3 linked regions of the Homo sapiens genome follow. The protein of the gene in region 3 interacts with the protein of the main gene of each other region in a pairwise test. Each region holds a gene or a part of one and is shown on either strand. Other genes may lie near its edges.

What was found.
Region 1: the proteins of MORN2 (region 3) and MPP3 interact in a two-hybrid assay, tested with the Homo sapiens proteins (one large-scale study listed by IntAct).
Region 2: the proteins of MORN2 (region 3) and RSPH1 interact in a two-hybrid assay, tested with the Homo sapiens proteins (one large-scale study listed by BioGRID and IntAct).

What each region holds. Positions count from the first base shown.
Region 1 is NC_000017.11:43,819,500-43,823,149, reverse strand, and holds part of MPP3 (MAGUK p55 subfamily member 3), read left to right. Parts: intron 1-2,091; coding exon 2,092-2,288; exon of another isoform or gene 2,289-2,408; intron 2,409-3,650. UniProt on the Homo sapiens protein: Participates in cell spreading through the phosphoinositide-3-kinase (PI3K) pathway by connecting CADM1 to DLG1 and the regulatory subunit of phosphoinositide-3-kinase (PI3K). Stabilizes HTR2C at the plasma membrane and prevents its desensitization.
Region 2 is NC_000021.9:42,475,631-42,479,280, forward strand, and holds part of RSPH1 (radial spoke head 1 homolog), read right to left. Parts: intron 1,815-3,650; coding exon 1,661-1,814; intron 418-1,660; coding exon 268-417; intron 1-267.
Region 3 is NC_000002.12:38,878,962-38,883,345, reverse strand, and holds the end of MORN2 (MORN repeat-containing protein 2), read right to left. Parts: intron 3,168-4,384; coding exon 3,117-3,167; intron 2,747-3,116; coding exon 2,640-2,746; intron 1,905-2,639; coding exon 1,768-1,904; intron 934-1,767; coding exon 831-933; 3' UTR 637-830; downstream 1-636. UniProt on the Homo sapiens protein: Might have a role in spermatogenesis.

The sequences.
Region 1 (3,650 bases), on a different chromosome or scaffold from region 3:
AAGGATTGAATGCAAATGGTTTATTTGGGAAGTGGCCCCAGGAAATACCAGTACAGGACTGGGAAAGGGAAGACAGCCAATCTGACTAAGGGTGTGTTATCAAGCAGGTTACCACTATGGGCAGCTGGAGCTTAGTCCTGCTGGGAACTTGGGGAACTACTTCTTCCCCTGTAGAACACACGCCTCCATCATCCCACCCAGGGGCCCTGGGAGCTGGGCGATCTATATACCAACTCCTGCCAGGCTGCACCCGGGGGATTAATTCCTAGCAACTTCTGCCTGCTGGACTAGAGATGAGTAGGTTCCAGTGGCCAGAGAAAGTAAGTCCTTAGGCAAAGAGATGCAGGTGCTGGCAGCTGGAAGTCAGCCCAGGCTGCACTGAATGGTCCAGCCCTGGGGCATATGGGAGGGCATCCCACAGCCCAAGAGATAATCCCATAGGTTCTAATAAGCTCTTTTTTTTTTTTTTTTAGGATGGGAGTGGTGCAGTTATATTTGTGTTTTAGAAAGCTCCGTGAGGCAGCCACGGGGAGGAGGGTGGAGTGGGTAGAGGTTGGAGGCAGGGAGGCCTGGTAGAAGGCTCTTGTAAAAGCCCAGGTGAGACGTTAAGACCTGAACTGTGAGATGGTGGTTGATGAGATAGAGAGGAGGGCATCACTTTGATTTCATAGTAGAGTTTCCTGGCAGCCAAGGCAAAAAGGAGAGCATAATGAATTACATACTGTTGAGCAGAGAATGGAAGGAAGCATGCCAGTTTTTCAAGACATTCCCATACCTGCCTCTCAGTACTTAATGCATGAAAGAAGAAACATTACAGCATCTAGCACAGAGGAGATGTCAGTCGATACTTTGAAGAATGTGGATTTGTAATGGACTACGTCTTCAATGACAGTTTTTTACAGCAAGTGAAGAAATAATCTTTATATAGCTGTTTCTTATTTGTGCTCTTTGGTTAAATCCCAGGGCATAATATTTCCTCTTACCTGGTGGAAAGTGATTCTTCCTAGGACAAGCGAATGTGGTCCGCACATGCAACTTTGAGGGTTCTGACTTGAGGAAACCTCTTTGAGGAAGAGAACTTGGTTTTCCTAAAGGACAAAATGAGTAGCCTGTCCCCCAGCCTGTCCTTCTTGAATATTTCTTCTTGATCCAGATGCTTGATTTGGGCTGGCCACTTAAGATTACATTCTTCTGAGTGCTTAGGACCCTGGTAACATCTGTGGCTGGTTAAGGGCATCTGTCCCCACAACATATGCCAGAAAGTTCTTACTGTTGTCCAGTGGAATCTTTTCTGGTTGGCATACAAAGGAATAGAGTTTGTATCTGTCTGAGGAAGACCCCTGATTGCTTTTTTTTTCCTGTTTGCCACTGAAGTGATTGGGCCCTAATGGTCTGAAAATAGAAATAAATAAAGTTAATCCATGCCACTAAATTATCGAAGAGAACAAGGAAGTGTGAAAAATGCTGTGTCCTCACACCATCTTCTCCAGAGAGGGTGACTCTAGAGCAGAGGGGGGAATTAGGGCTTGGCCGAGTCTATGGCAGACGAGGCAGGATTGAGCCGTAAGAGCTGTGGGTGTCAATTACCCACTGAAAAGTGATGGTGAGGAGTCAGTAACAGTAGTTTTGTTGATATTTGTGTTCTTACCCAAACATCTAGATTACTTATATAACAGATGGCTGCTGCCTTCCGTCAGCGCAGTTGGCGTATCAAAAATAACACTTGAGTTAGAAATTGTGCTTGCCTTTACTTTTTGTTCCCAGGATTAGTTGTTGCTGTGTGTATGCTAAGAGGCTGTTATGAGGACAGCTGGTCAAGTAAATAAGGAAATATTTAGGTAGGAAAGAGACATTCAGTCATGGGGCTTATTAATTTTCTGATTCTTGATGGACTTCCTGACTATAGTATCCCAAATGGTTGAAGAACAGTTAAGAACATACGTGCAGTGTATTTCCAAGTAGCTTTCTATTTGAAAGGCCACTTGGTCCTCCTAAGTGTGGATGGTCGTTGTCATGTGGCCTTTGATGTGACAATGACCTGTCTGTGCTCACTTGGGGAAGGGCCGCCTCACCAGAGCCCTCCTTGTGCAGGTGTTCATGCGCGCCCTCTTCCACTACAACCCTCGGGAGGACCGGGCCATCCCTTGCCAGGAGGCGGGCCTGCCCTTCCAGCGCAGGCAGGTCCTGGAGGTGGTGAGCCAGGACGACCCCACGTGGTGGCAGGCCAAGCGAGTCGGGGACACCAACCTTCGAGCCGGCCTCATCCCCTCCAAGGGGTTCCAGGAGAGGTGGGTCTGGGGTATGTTGTGAAGGGCTGGTTCCAGAGTGGCAGAGGCACAGGTACATGGCAGACCCCCAAGTCTCTGCCCTCACAGCCAGAGGGGCCTGCTGAGCATTGTTCCCCCAAGGTAAGTACCAGTTGCACTTGTGTTTGGTCTTTTCCCATAACTAGTGATGATGGTTATTTGAGATTTAAAGGAATCTATGGAAATTTATGTTATTAAGTTAATGTGTGTGTGTGTGTGTGTGTGTGTGTGTGTGTGTATTTTTTTTTTTTTTGAGACAGAGTCTCCCTCTGTCACCCAGGCTGGAGTGCAGTGGCGAATCTTAGCTCACTGCAACCTCCACCTCCCGGGTTCAAGCAATTCTCCCGCCTCAGCCTCCTGAGTAGCTGAGATTACAGGCGTGCACCACCATGCCTGGCTAATTTTTGTATTTTTAGTAGAGACAGGGTTTGGCCAGGCTGGTCTCAAACTCCTGGCCTCAAGTGATCCACCTGCCTTGACCTCCCAAAGTGCTAGGATTACAGGCATGAGCCACTGGATCCAGCCTAAGTTAATGTATATTTTATAATGCATGCTCAGAGAATGCTGATAAACAAAATATAAAAATACAGAAGAGAGGCTGGGCATGGTGATGACTCACGCCTGTAATCCCAGCACTTTGGGAAGCCGAGGCAGAAGGTTCCCTTGGGCCCAGGAGTTCAAGACCAGCCTAGGCAACATAGTAAGACCTTGTCTCTACAAAAAATAAAAAATTAGCTGGGCATGGTTGCACACACCTGTAGTCCCAGCTACTCGGGAGGCTGGGGTGGGAGGATCAGTTGAGCCCAAAAAGGTCAAGGCTTCAGTGAGCTGTTATCACACCACTGCACTCCAGCCTGAGTAAGAGTGAGACCCTGACTCAAAAAACAAAACAAAACAAAACAAAAAAACAGAAAAAAACTGAAGAGGAGGACTATGAAAGGAAATTCCCCACGTCTCACCCTTATCTAAACTGCATAGTTTGTTTCCTTACTGTGCTTTTTATGTGAGTGTTGCATACAGAATTTGGGGTCTTGCTTTTTTTTTTTTTAAACATTTTTGGCGTGAGTATTTTCCATATTATAGCATCGTTTTTGTAGTGTGATTTTAGTGGCTGTATACTAACTCATCAGGAGCTGTGCCATTCATTCCTAGGCGGCAGGTATTTAGGATGAATTGAGCTGGCCTTGTGCTGGCATCTTGCGGGCTGCTGTGAATCCAGGGTTTCTGCCCTGGAGGAGCTTATAGTTCAGTGGAAAAGCCAGACGCTCTTCAAACACACAGTTTATATAAACGTGATGGGTGCAAGGGAGGAGGACATGGTGCTGTGTGAGTTCATATTAGGAG
Region 2 (3,650 bases), on a different chromosome or scaffold from region 3:
CAGCCTGGGGTCGGTCCTCCTGTGACAACGCGCATGGGCACCGCTGCACACCCAGGCCTCTCCCACTGCAGCCAGGCTTGCAGGAGGGCCTGCCAGGGAGCAACGTTCTGAGATGGCTCCAGTGAGCGCTCACAGGGGGCCCCCTAAGCCTTCCTCGAGTCCCTGGGGCCCAGCTGAAGGCAGGCCTTGGTGAAGGGAAGGGGAATCCCACTGTTCGTGGCCCCTAAGTGCGGGCCCTCGCCCCACTTCCCTGCGCAGGGACCTCACCCTCATCCATGTCATAGCGGAACTCCTCCTGGTCATACTCCCGGCTCTCTTCCCGGAGGACGTCTGCATCTTCATCTCCAGGCCTCATGTCCATCTCACCCTCGAAGCCCTCCAGCAGAGCCTGGGCCTCCTCCCCGGGTTCTCCTGCACCTGAGATAAAACACAAGTCAGAAGCCTGAGTTCCTGGGAAAAATGGAGCCTGCAGACCTGTGCAGGGCAGCTGTCCCCTGGGCTGCCGTGCCCCCACCCTCCCCCTCCCACTGGCAGCACCTCATGTTCCCCATCTCAACATCCACCCAGCCCAGCCTAGGCCTGGCCAGGGGAGCAGCCCAGTCCCCACTGTAGTCAGTGGCTTGGGGATGGGAGCAGGTAGTCTGATAACTTTCATTCCTGAGGGTGTTGATGAGACTCTTGAGAAAGAGAAGTCCCCTGGGGTTCCTGAGAGTGCCAGCCAGGGGAGCCAGCAGAGAGGAGAGCTGGGACAGAGGGCAGAGGCTGCCCGGCCATTCTGGGGGCTGTCCCGGAGCTTCCCAGTCACATGAGCCAAGAAATTCTTAGCAGCATGAGTATTCTTTCACGGAGGCCAATCGGAGTTGGCTTTCCTCCGCTTGCCATGGAAGGGATCTCACCCGGGGTAGCCACCTTCAACTTTCCCCAGCACATTAAGGACTTCCAGAAAGACCACTGGGTTGGACATGGAGGTGCCACACGGACCCTTCTTCAGGGAAGGGCTGTCCCCTCAGCTGCTGTCAGTGCCAGCCCGGGGTCACACCCACATTCACTCACTGACCTAGGTGAGGGGATAAGGGTCCCCGAGACGCCACAGTGCTCCCCATGGAATGAAGCAAGGTTGTGGAGGCCACACCTCCGCCTCTGTCCAATCAACTCTGTTTCTTTCCTCTCCCCTCCGCTCTCCGGGAGTGTCCTCCAATCCCAAAGGCTCTCCCTAATAACATCCCGCACACTCAACTGACCCAGCATCTGATTTTCAGAGAGTCCAACCACACCTGGCCTGAAAACAGGATGTCCACAACTCCCACAGCCCAAAGGCGCCCACACCCTCCATCCCACAGCCTGGGGATGCCCCACACCCTCTGTCCCACAGCCCGGGGGATGCCCCACACCCTCTGTCCCACAGCCCGGGGGTGCCCCACACCCTCTGCCCCCTCCACCCCACAGCCCGGGGATGCCCCACACCCTCTGCCCCCTCCACTCCACAGCCCGGGGATGCCCCACACCCTCTGCCCCCTCCACCCCACAGCCCGGGGATGCCCCACACCCTCTGACCCCTCCACCCCACAGCCCGGGGATGCCCCACACCCTCTGTCCCACAGCCCGGGGGTGCCCCACACCCTCTGCCCCCTCCACCCCACAGCCCGGGGGTGCCCCACACTCTCAGCTCCTGGAGCGTCTTGGCCAGGTCCATCCGTAGAGGTCGGCTTTTTGGGGAGAGTTGGTGTCCACAGGGCCAATTCAGTGATTTGGGTAGCTTTCCATTTTGGAACAACAGTTACTAATTCTTCCTCCTCTTCCTCTTCTCCTCTTTCCTATTTTAAGTGCAAAAATGTACATTTACCAACATTTGTGTCATCTTGGTCTGGAATATTAAAAGTGAGGGAGGAAGGACAAGTTTTGAAAGACAGGTTTTGGCTTGTGTTTCAGCCTTTTTAGGACGTCACTCAGGAATCAGACCAGTTGCTGACTATCCATGGTATAATCTCAGGGTTGAGAATGGATCTTGAAAGAGCCAGGGTGAGGAATAAAGTCTCCAGAGCAATGCTGGGCCAGCGAGCTTTATAATGGGTGCCACAAAAGGCTTTCAGATGAGCATGTCGCAGTCGCCTGCAATAGCTAAGACATGGCCAGGACTAAGTGGCCAGAACTGAGTGACCAGGAGTAAGTGGTCTTTTCAATTGTTCGGCCACATTTTGCAACTCTAATATAAAAAATCGTGTATTATATAATTATATGTCTATTGAGCTTAGTAGAAACATAATTATTTATATTATTCTTTATATAAATAATAAAAGAAACAGCCATTTGTTTTAGGCTTAGGCCTAAGAAGTTCCTAAGATGTCCATATGATATGGATTTGCATAAACGCAAAAGCTCAAGTGTCAAGGATTATGGGGAAAAATAAAATTCAAGGAAAGCAGAATGAGAGTTCATCAAGTCTGAACATGGAACACTTTGTAATAAAAAATGTACAATTCCGACAATGGTGAGCAGCCAACATGTGCCAATTTTGCCAAGCATATTTGCCTACTTCTCAGTTTTGTGACTATCACAAAATTCCAAAGATCTGAGCATCAGCACTATGACTATGGAACACTTCGCTGCCACATAGGTGATAATACCGATGACAGAGAGGGGCAGACACCTGCCTCTTCCACTGAGTCACTGGGAAATCAATTACTCTCTATTTTGGTCTCAGAGTGTTTGAATATGGCCACCCATGAAGGGTGACACCAATGCTGCAGGACAGGGTCCTCAAACTTGACTTAGATCAGAATCACCCAGAAAGCATTAAAAGACAGATTGCTAGCCCCACCCCCAGAGTTTCAGATTCGGCAGGTCTGGGATAGCGTCCAATAAGCTGCATTCCTAACAGATTCCCAGGTGAAGCTGACAGCACTAGTTTGGGAACTGCACGCCACTTTATGTATAAAACCAAGAGGTGGAACCCTTTCACATTGCTGGTGGGAACGTAAAATGCTGCAGCTACTGTAGAAAACATTTGACAGTTCTTCAAAAAGCGAAACAGCATCACCATATGACCCAGCAATTCCACTCCTCGGTATATAACCAAAGGAACTGAAAACAGAGATTCGACCAGATGCTTGCACACCAATGTTCACTGCAGCATTATTCATAATAGCTAAAATGTGGAAGCAACTCAATTGTCCATCAACAGACAAATGGATAAGCAAGAACCTTGAAAACGTCGTGCTAAATGAAAGAAGCCAGACACAAAAGGACAAATACAGAATGAATTCATCTATATGCGACATCTAGAATAGGCAAATTCATAGAGAAAGAAAGTAGATTAAAAGCTATCAGGGGCTGGGGGAGGTCGAATGGGGAGTTGTTGCTTAATAGGTACAGAGTTTCTGTCTGGGATAACGGACAAGCTCCAGAAATGCATCATTCTCACAGCTGCACAACACTGAACGTACTGAATGCCACTGAAAGCATGCTTTAAAATGGCAAATTTCAAACTCTATAAACGTACATATAAAACCATAATTTAAAAAGAAACAGGGAGTGAGCCGTGGGCTGCAGCTTGGCAAGCCCTACTCTAGAAGGGATACATTCCCCTTACTAGGGAGAGAGAACACGGAGGCCCTTCTGTTCCACCACCATCCTAATCCATCCCCACAGCA
Region 3 (4,384 bases):
GGGCTGGGGTGATGGGAAAATAAGAGGTAACTAATAAAAGGCCATAAAGTTTCAGTCAAGCAAGATGAATAAGCTCTAGAGATCTGCTGTACAACATTGTACCTATAGTCAACAATAATGTATTGTACACTTAAAATTGTGTTCATTATCCTTAGCAAACTAACAGAACGGGAACAGAAAACCAAATACCGAATGTTCTCACTTATAAGTGGGAGCTAAATGATGAGAACTTGTGGACACAAAGAAAGGAACAACAGACACTGGGGCTACCTGAGGATGGTGGCTGGGAGGAGGGAGAGGATCAGAAAAAATAACTATTGGTACTATGCTTAGTACCTAGGGGACAAAATAATCTGTATAACAAACACTGTGACATGAGTTTACCTGTATAACAAACCTGCACATGTACGCCTGAACCTAAAATAAAAGTTAGAAAATAATAAGAAATGAATAAAATGTATTACAGCCTAAAAAAAAAAGTTGTTTTTTTTTTAAAGAGGTCGGATGTTGACCAGGACACACAAGCACAAACTAGAAAAAAAAAAAAAAAATGACAAAACTCAAACAGAGGATTGGAAATCAACTTTGCCAAGATTTGGATGCTTCTGCCATAGTTATTATAATAAGCAGACTGAATTGAATCATGTCATTTATTTTAAACTAATTGTAAGACAATGAATATAAAGTTCAAAAAGGTGTAAGCAGGTGATGGTTTTATTGGCAAACTTATAGGGGTAGTGTATGAAGTCATTTCAAATAACAGATTAAGTTGCTTTCCTTACAACTAAAAGCTTCAATTACTACATTTCAACTTTAATTTAACATCACATCTACATGTGAAGCTTTAATTTCAGGTCTGGAGCAGCTGTAAAATGAAAGTTACCACTCCATTCTAGTCCTTGGATATCAGTATATTCCCCTTCACCTTCCACCCTGCAATAGTAGAAAATAAGTTTTCCATTAACAAAGATGAATAATTTACAGTCCAGATATAAGATTTTCTAGCATAATATATACTATGTCTGAAGATTATATCCTCTACTTTCAAGCTTTGCTTTTAAACCCAGCATCCTGCTTTCATATCCTACCAAAAAAACAAACAAACCAAAAAAAAAAAAAAAAAAACCACATACTATTCCAAACAAAAACAAACAATTATTTGGTGTCCAAGATTTTAGGATCACATAATCTAGGTTCACACAAAACCAAAACAATGAGTTAAAAAAATGAAAAGTTTATATCGGTTATCTAGCTTAATTACTTCACTTATTCAACAAATATTTTTTCACTATCAATGATGTTTGAGGTGCTGTGCCACCGCACCTGGCCTCCAACAATTTTTAGAAACTATATCATAAAAGAATATTTAGAATTAACTAAATATAGTATTTAAGCAGCTGGGCACAGTGGCTCACGCCTGTAATCTCAGCACTCTGAGAGGCCGAGGCAGGCAGATCACTTGAGGTCAGGAGTTCTAGACCAGCCTGCTCAACACGGTGAAACCCCGTCCCTACTGAAAATACAAAAAATAGCTGGGTGTGGTAGTGCACATCTGTGGACCCAGCTACTTGGGTGGCTGAGGCAAGAGAATCGCTTGAACCCGGGAGGCAGAGGTTGCAGTGAGCCGAGATCACTCCACTGCACTCCTGCCTGGATGACAGAGGGAGACTCTGTCTCAATAAATAAATAAATAAATAAGTATTTAAGCAAACATACCAGAAAATAATCTTTTAGAAATGCAGTGATTTTTTTTTATTTTAAGCTTACCTATTTTCATTGAAATTTCCAGTATACTTTGCCCCATTTGGGAATGTGTAAGTCCCCAGTCCATGAAACATATTATCCTTAAATTGTCCTTCATATACTGCTCCTGAAAAATGCTCAAGTCTTCCAAAACCATTCATCTGTTTGTAACAAAGGAAATTACCTTAGAAACTAATCTTCAGTTTCCCAAGAACCTTTAAAAAATGTACAAATATAAGTCTATCATCTGCTAATTATTACTTAACCAACTTTGTATTGTCCTTTATTTCCATAGTATAAAGACAACATTTTTATCATTTTCCTTCATCTGTATCTATCTGTGAAGCCCAGTAAATTAAATGTTCTGGATCTGGGACATTTGAACATCAGGGGGTCCATGATGAAGATAAATAGGGGTCCTCAAGATACCCTGAATGTATCAGAAATCTTAAAGGGCAACCAGTTTAGTTAGTTCAGGAAACCAGTACAAAGTAGTTGTTAAGAATTCAAATTTGGATTTGAGCAGACCAGGGTATACTTTCCTGTTTTATCATTTACTAGCTGGGCAAGAAACCTGAGCCTGATTTTCCTCATTTGTAAAATAGAGTATTAATGGTACCTATCTCATGAGGTTATTATGAGGATTAAATGAGAAAATTATGTAACGGATTCAGCTTTACTCAATGAATAGGAGATGAGAAAGAAAGTAACGATGATTAGCTTTCTACAGTGAGTTTAATATTACTCATAAGTTAATATATGTTAATATGATCATTTGTTATTTTTATTATATAGTCTACTCATTATAGGAGTTTTTGATTAATGGTGAAATGCCTGGAATCACTAAACCTACAGGGTTATTTATCCACTGCCAATATTAAAAACAACAATAATACCTTGTCATCTTTCCAGCTTCCTGTGTAGACAATCCCATTAGGAGTGGTATGAATACCTATTCCATTTCTCTCGTAGATTCCAGAAGATGTTCTTGTACAGTCACCATCTAAACAGAGGAGAAAAACTGAAGATTATAAATGAGAATAGTTATGTCTGGGCCTAATCGCAACTACACCTCATGGGTTTCTTTGGCTCCCTAGCACTGAAACCAGTGAGACCAGAGATGAGAAAATCCATGGACACAGAACATCTTGTAACAATTGAGACTCAAGGGCCAGGAAGATTGACAGATCCCATAGGTTTCCAAGGCATTGGAATTTTGATTTTAAAAGCTCTTTATCTATTAGGATTTCTGTTATTTTAGTTAATAAAGTTAATATCCTAATAGTAGTTTTATAAAATTTAACAGTCTCAGTTTTTTATTCCTAAGCTATTTAATTTTCTATACAGAAAAAGTAATTGAAGCGTATACTTACCATACTTGTCTCCATTTGGAAAGATAAAGCTGATCTTATACACTTCTGAAGCTGTTTTAAAAGATTTAAAAACAGTGACATAAGTTTACTTTTTTTTCGATAGAGGCAAGGTTTCACTACATTGCCCAGGCCAGTCTCAAACTCCTGGGCTCAAGCGATCCTCCCGCCTCAGCCTCCCAAAGTGCTGGGGATGCAAATGTGAGCCACCACACCCAACCAAGTGTAAACATTCTTATGTCATAAGACCTATACCCAATGTGCTTTCAGCACTATCCAAATGGACTTACTTCTCAAGATCACATCATATCATGATTACTTGGTATTTCCATTGTCTAATGTAGGGTCCCGGGGAAATAAACAATTTTGCCTAGATGATCTCTTTTAAAATTTATTTATTATGATAGCTTTATTAATATATAATTCACACACCACAAAATCTACCCTTTAAAAAAATACAATTTGATTTTTTTAGTATATTCAGAGTTGTGCAACTATCATCACAATCTAATTTTAGAATATTTTAATCATCCCAGAAAGAAACTCTGTACACATTAGCAGTTACCCATTATGATTCCCCTCAAACACCCCTCACCCCACAACCCCAAACCCCTGGCAACCACTAATCTACTTTCTGCCTCAGGGATTTGCCTATTCTGGACATTTCTTATAAATGAAATCATATAATATGTGGTCCTTTATGTCTGGCTCGTTTCACTTAATGTTTCCAAGGCTCATCCATGTTGCATCGTGTATCAGTACTTCATTCCTTTTTATAGCCAAGTATATTGTATAAATATGTTGTACAGAAACAGCATATTTTGTTTATTCATTCATCAGTTCATGGACATGTAGGTTGTTTCCAGTTTGAGGCCATTATGAATAATACTGCTATAAACACTGATGTACATTTTCAAAACATACAGCTTCCTAGGAGTAAAAAAAAAATTGGTGTACAGATTTTTGTGTGGATATGTTTTTATTTCTCTTTGGTAGCCCATATGATTTACTGATTGTCCCACAGAGGTAAGGTGGAGTGAGGAATCTTTAAATTGGCAATAGGAAGAAATGGAAAATAAAGATAGCAAGTGGGGAAGGGCTGGTAGGTCCACACAGAATGAGACTGGAATGGAGACCAAGTGAAAAAGGAAGAAAGAGGACCGCAAGACTGAGGGGGACTCTGGGCCTCAGATCCCTGGACACTTACTGGACTAAAACTAGAAACTGTATTTTCCGATACTGAAGAAAACTTATGTAGAGACGGTATGCAG